Homo sapiens: one gene and its partner. The protein of the gene in region 1 interacts with the protein of each later gene in a pairwise test. Each region holds a gene or a part of one and is shown in the gene's direction. Other genes may lie near its edges.

Region 1 (3,500 bases):
CAGAATATATCTGTGCTGAATTTTCCTCTTAGAAGTTGATGTTCTGCTCTTAAAGCCGTATTTCCAAAATTCAGCATTTCCAAAACCAAACAGAAAATACTGCAAAAAATTATGACTAATAATAGGCTCAAAATGTTTTCCCTGCTTATATCACCGTATTTATGTTAAAGAATATGTTAAATGTAAGGCACAATGGGAAAAGAGAATCAAGAACAATCATAAAACTTGCAAACCTTCATTTTACTAGATCATACTAGTTTTAAAAAATTGTTTTTGTAGAACAATATCTCAGGGTAAGGCAAAAGTAGCACTGTATTAAGTAACAGCACTCAATAAATTACTGATTTAGTGTAAGTATTTATAGTATTTTTCATATTATTTAATATTTTCAATATCATTTAGGTTAAACTTCAGCCTGTATATGAAGAAAATCTGTACATGTATTTATACTTTGTCATCTTTATCATCTTTGGGTCATTCTTCACTCTGAATCTATTCATTGGTGTCATCATAGATAACTTCAACCAGCAGAAAAAGAAGATAAGTATTCTTTAGCTTTTACCTTTCTTCATTCTGGGGTTCTGTCTGTTAATACAGCCAAATAACCAGAATACCTGTGGTCATGACAGACTTAAATCATGTTTATATTATTTTCAGTTGCCCATGTGGTTATTTAAGCTGCAGGGATTCCAGCCTCTAGTCAGTGGCTCCTCTCAAAGTTTATCTATTGGATAGCTTTCTGACCCAAAAATGTGTCCACTCCTTCGGACCCATCCAACGGGTCTCCAGTGCTTTAGCTTGGCTTACAGAGCCTTTCAGGAATTACCTCCACCCAGTTTTCCATCTTCATTTTTTCCTACACTTCACTCTATACATGTGTATTTCCCTACTACATAGTCACCACCCATACATCTATATGAGCTTTCTGCCCTTTTCTGAACAAGCATTCTCTTGTACCTCCATGGCTTTTTGTGATTTTTTTTTATCCTGGAATGTTCCTAGAAAACCCATAATCATCTTTTAAGGCCTAGCTTAAGGGTAAGCTATGTAACAGCTTGTCTCTGAGTCTCTGAATTCATTGTTGCCTCTGCAGTACATTTAATTTTTTTGTCATATCAACATACACTGTCCACCTACGTTTTCAGTTTCCTGCTCCATTTAGAAGCAGAATACTGTATCTTATATATTTATGTAATTCTGACACCCAGCACATTGTCTAGCACACAGAAAGTGTTAAAAACTGTTGAATGAAGAAGTAAAATTATCGGCAGTGAAATGGACTAAGAAAATGTTTTCTGTTTTGCAAAAATATATTTGAGACCCTTGTGCCTACTTTTAAACATAGTATAATCAAATTAGGATCCTGTAGCGATCAGAGTTTTATGTACGTAAGGATTTTGCATAATATTAAGATATTCAGAATTTCACATAAATGGGAAAAGCAGGATAAATGTATATGTAGGAGGATAATATCCACTTAAAAATTAGAAAAGATTAAAGGAAAGACAAATATTTTTTGTGAAAGTACTATTGGAACACAGAATTGTAACCAGTTTTATACTATGTCTTTACTTTGGAGGTCAAGACATCTTTATGACAGAGGAACAGAAAAAATATTACAATGCAATGAAGAAACTTGGATCCAAGAAACCTCAGAAACCCATACCTCGCCCAGCAGTAAGAATTACTTGTCTCCTTTAATGTTCCAAAGCCATGCGTCCATATGGTCAAATTGAGCAATGCTCTGGAGCAGAACATATTAGGTGATATCACCAATATTGAGCCCTAATTATAAAGTTCATATTTTGCATCATAATTCACAACTTCTGCACTCATTAGGAGTTACCACATTCCAAAAAAAGGAGGTAATGTTCTTTATAATTTGTGAGTTGAAAACTTCTAGCTCAGGGTTCCTAATAAATACTTCCAAAGCAAGGTTCACTTTCCTGCTACCAACAGCACACCTGGTTCCTCCTCCTCTAGCCTTCCCATCCCACTCTCCAAGGCCTCCCTCTATACTCTCTGCTCCCTCCATTCTTAAGACTAGAAAATATTCCAAACCTGTTTAGAAAGGGAAAAGGTGTCATCAAAATTGTTTGTTTCACCAAATACACCAAAACAGAATAAGGCATATTCAGAATGCATACTCTGTAGAGCCTCATGATGATGGAATGATGTAATAATGACAGATTATGTTCACAGAGCTGGACTCTAACTCAGCTATTTTCTGAGATTGGTAAGGAGTAAGGAAACTGAGGCCCAAAGAACATACGAATCATGCCCCAAGTCACAAATCTTGTAATTGCCAGAACTGGGACTTGACAAGGCCCCATAAATTCTCTAAGTGACTTGACTTTACCATATTTATAAGAGTAGTTGGAGCTGGAATGTGAGGGAGCAGGGTAAGAGGGGAAAGGATTGAACTGACTTTACTAGAGTTCTTTAAAAATTAAAACATGGTCACTTCATGACCTTTGATTTTTGGTAAGCCATGAAGTTTTAAGTTTTTACTCTAAATGATTAATAATATATTTCTTTAATAAAACTGTATTTACTAGCCATATTAATATAAGAATCTTTGAAAGCATGTTGTTCCTGAGATGATTGTTAATAAGACAAAGAAAAAAAGTGTTTAAAGTCATGCATTTTTGTTAAAGCACAGGGCATAGGTAAAGAAGGACAGATGGAAAGAAATACAGATAAATTAACAAGCCCATACATAGATTCACAGAGCTAGAGAGGTAGAATTCAATAGAAATATGACTGATGTATTTCAGGGGAGGGAAATAAGGTATAAACCAAAATTTCTAAAATATTGATAAATGAATTGGTGTATTCTCTATCTAAATATCTGTTGATATTAACCTGCTTTGTAAATCTTTGTTATTAGTAGTCACTATTTTTTATAAAAATTATCATACTTATTCAAATCAAGCAAAGACTACATATATTATCAGCCAATTGTCACAAATTTATGTGTTTGTTTTTGTTTTGTTTTTTAAGAGACAGGGTCTCACTCTGTCTCTCAGGCTGGAGTACAGTGGCAAGACCATAGCTCACTGCAAGTTCAAACACCTGGGGTCAAGTGATTCACCTCAGCCTCCCTCGTAGCTGGGACTGCAAGCCTGTGCCACCATACCAGGCTAATTTTTTTTTAATAGAAATGAGGTCTCACTATGTTGCCCAGGCTGGTCTGGAACTCTTGGCCTCAAGAGAGCCTCCAGTCTCAGCCTCCTAAAGTGCTGGAATTACAGGCATGAGTTGCCACGCCCAGCCTTAATTTATGTCTCATCCAGCTTTGTCTTTCCATAGGACCTATATAAACCAAATATGCTTTGTTTAGCTATATAAATTTTTTTTCCATTTTTTTTAACATGAAGAGAAAAAAAGCACACAAAATTGTTTGGGGTAATATGAGGAGGGTGCACATCCATCCCGTATGTGGAAGGGCTTTATCTACAATTTTACTGCATTATTCTTTATGAAATATATATAGTAAC
Region 2 (3,500 bases), 4.0 Mb from region 1:
CTGAGAAACTGCTTGGGTGACTTGACAAGTAAAGGCCGGTCCACTGTCGGACTGTATAGAGGTGGGAAGGCCAAACCGAGGAATTATGTCTGACAGAAGGGAAGAAATGACCGCAGTGGACTTCTCAGACCCTGTGGGAAAGGCCTCTTCCTATCCTGTGAAAGTGTCTACCCAGACCAAGAGGTATTTTAGTTTCCTGACTTGGGGCATGTGAGTAAAGTCAATTTGCCAGTCCTGGGCGGGGGAAAAACCCCGAGCTTGAGGTGTAGGGAAGGGAGGGGGCCTGAGAAATTCCTGAGGAGTAGTAGAATAGCAGATGGAACACTGAGAAGTGATTTCCTTGAGGATAGATTTCCACAATGGAAAGGAAATGAGAGGTTCTAAGAGACTGGCTAGTGGCTTGTAACCTACATGGAAGAGGTTATGAAATGATGACAGAATAGAATGGGCCTGTGAGGCTGGAAGGAGATATTTTCCTTGGTCTAAGAACCATTTGCCTTGTGTGGGAAGAGATTGATAGGTGGAAGTTTCAGCGGGGGACTAGGTGGGAGTGACTAATGTGAAGGAGAAAAACTGACTGTGAGGGACAGAAGTTGGAACGCTAGCTGCTTTTTTAGCTAATTTATCAGCATAAGCATTGTCCTGAGCGATGGGATCTGATGCCTTTTTGATGGCCCTTGCAGTGAATGACTCCAGCTTCCTCTGGAAGTAAAGCGGCTTTGAGAAGCGTTTTTATTAAAGACGCATTAATGATAGAGGACCCTTGTGTAGTGAGGAAACCTCTTGCATGGTGGTGCAGGATATGGAAGGCATATATAGAGTCAGTATAAATACTGACATGTAGTCCCTTTGCAAGAGTGAGGGTTTGACTTAAGGCAATGAGTTCGGCTTGCTGAGAGGTAGTGGAGCGGGGCAGAGCGGTAGCCTCAATGATAGATGTGGAAGATACTATAGCATAGCCTGCCTTTGCTGGTGAGTGGCGATTAGGCCTGGTGGAACTGCTATCAGTAAACCAAGTGTGTTCAGGGTGAGGAACAGGAAAAAAGGAAATATGGGGAAATGGGGTGAATGTCAGGTGGATCAGAGAGATACAGTCATGGGGGTCAGGTGTGGTATCCGTAGTAATGTGGGAGGCTGGATTGAAGTCTGGGCCAGAAACAATGGTAATTGTGGGAGACTCAACAAAGAGTGAGTACAGCTGAAGGAGCTGGGGAACAGACAGTATATGCGTCAGGTGGGAGAAAGAAAATAGATTTTGGAAGTTATGAGAACTGTAGAGAGTGAGTTGAGCATAGTTTGTGATTTTTAGGGCCTCTAAAAGTATTAAAGCAGTGGCAGCCGCTGCACGCAGACATGAGGGCTAGGCTAAAACAGTAAGGTCAAGTTGTTTGGACAGAAAGGCTACAGGGCACGGTCCCGGCTCTTGTGTAAGAATTCTGACTGCACTAACCATGCCTAGGAAGGAAAGGAGTTGTTGTTTTGTAGAAGGGATTGAGGTTTGGGAGATTAGTCAGACTTGATCAGCAGGGAGAGCATGTGTGTTTTTATGAGAATTATGCCGAAATAGGTAACAGATGAGGATGAAATTTGGGCTTGACTGAAGTAATGGGGGCTGTCTGTGAAGCTTTGCAGCAGTACAGCCCAGGTAATTTGCTGAGCCTGATGGGTGTCAGGTTCAGTCTAAGTGAAAGTGAAGAGAGGCTGGGATGACGGGTGCAAAGGAATAGTAAAGAAAGCATGTTTGAGATTCAGTCCGTCATCTTTAAGAAGAGCTGGGAGATGAAATAGGAATATAGGTGAAGGGAATAACTTTACATAAGGTCTGCATCAATAGCCCCAGCGCCACTTTTACTGCTTGTCAACTGCGAACATGTATCTCCTTTGTCACAACAACTATGGCCTTAGTGACAATGAATAACTGTCATTGTTAACACCTAATGCTCCTTTTGAACTCGAGATATGGCACATTTTAATACAGAAACTAGAAATGTTTATTTTACAAATATTTTGTGATTTTAAGATCGGAAATGTTTAAATCTTGAAAGCATTTTCCCTGATCCTCTGATAAACAGATATGAAAACTTTAATCACATGATAAAAGAGATACGACATTTCATTTGACATCTTCACTTAAAATAAAATGAGGCCATGTATACAAATGCATATCCAAGTTTCAGAATAAACAAGTAATGAATGTGAAAATATAGGAAAAGGAGTGAATTGTCTACCTTGTAGTTTATTATGCATTCATGGTAATTTGGTCTTAAAAGGGAACCTTGGAATTGTATGAATGTTATAGAAAAATGCGTAGAAGATTATTAATTCTATCATTCTCATCTTTTCAAAAATTCAACCTCTTTTTAGTAGTACTATGAAATCTTAATTTCCGAAGATAGGATTTATTAATATTCAAAGAAATTATTAAGATCCAAAGATAGGATTCTCAGTTCATCAGTGAGGTTGGGGAATTATTCTTGCTGTTCTTCTAGGATTTGGCTTCCAGTATATAACTAGAGTATGATTATCCAAAAATTTGGTCAACAGTGGGAGTAAGAAGGTATAGAGAATACAGTAGAAATTGCTAGTAATAAGTGAGAGTGTGACCAGTGAGGGATGTATTTGCCTCCCAGGATTAAGGTATGAGGTGACTTAGTGGTTGCTGCTCTTGATTTTGGGGCGGTGGGAGTGATGTTTAGTCCTGGCCTACTGGGTCATGCAATAAAAATGGTGCCTGATGATGTCTGTGGGAGAACAAGATGGCAAAAAGAGCCAGAGTTGGTACAAACTTTACAGCAAATTTATTTACTACTAAATTCTTTCAAAATTGGGTAAAGGCCTTTAACATGTCCACAGGTGACTGTATCTGAAAATGTGGATAATAAGAATTATGGAAGTCCCATAAACCCTTCTGAGATAGTTCCAGAGACAAACCCAACTTCACCAGCTGCTGATGGAACTCAGGTAACAGTTGCCGACTCCTGAAATAATGTGGGATTTGGAAAAACTTTGGGATGACTGGGTTTTTATTAACCTTAAGCAAACAAGGGAGATTCTGGAAGGCTCAAAGATCTCAAGATGTGTTGACAGTTAATAAATATAATTTTTTAAAAAGTCATAGATTGAAAAACTTTCCACCAAATAAAGCTACATTCTAACATCGAGTTGGGAATAATGTTCCTTGTAACATAGGAGGACATGTCACAAAGAAGAACAAATAGACTTCTGGATCCAGTATCTTCAGACCAGAGACATTTAAGTTGAGAAATTGACTCAGTATGAATAAAGATTTCACGGTGTCAAAGATACAGATGAAAGATCCGTCTGTGTGTGCCGTGATTTCTCTACAGCATGCATCTTTATTCTTTCAAGCTGTTCTTCGCTCTCCTGCTATTACAGATCTTTACCACTAGATGGCACTAATTTTTCCATTCATCATCCATCTATTCATTATTGGCCAACCAATCATCTAACTAACGTTATTCCCCTCGATGTGTCAGGGA

The links. The genes of interacting proteins can lie anywhere in the genome.
Region 2: the proteins of SCN3A (region 1) and LRP2 interact in a two-hybrid assay, tested with the Homo sapiens proteins (one study listed by BioGRID).

The regions. Positions count from the first base shown.
Region 1 is NC_000002.12:165,092,551-165,096,050, reverse strand, and holds part of SCN3A (sodium channel protein type 3 subunit alpha), read left to right. Parts: intron 1-402; coding exon 403-540; intron 541-1,572; coding exon 1,573-1,677; intron 1,678-3,500. UniProt on the Homo sapiens protein: Pore-forming subunit of Nav1.3, a voltage-gated sodium (Nav) channel that directly mediates the depolarizing phase of action potentials in excitable membranes.
Region 2 is NC_000002.12:169,132,035-169,135,534, reverse strand, and holds part of LRP2 (low-density lipoprotein receptor-related protein 2 precursor), read left to right. Parts: intron 1-2,853; coding exon 2,854-2,961; intron 2,962-3,500. UniProt on the Homo sapiens protein: Multiligand endocytic receptor. Acts together with CUBN to mediate endocytosis of high-density lipoproteins. Mediates receptor-mediated uptake of polybasic drugs such as aprotinin, aminoglycosides and polymyxin B.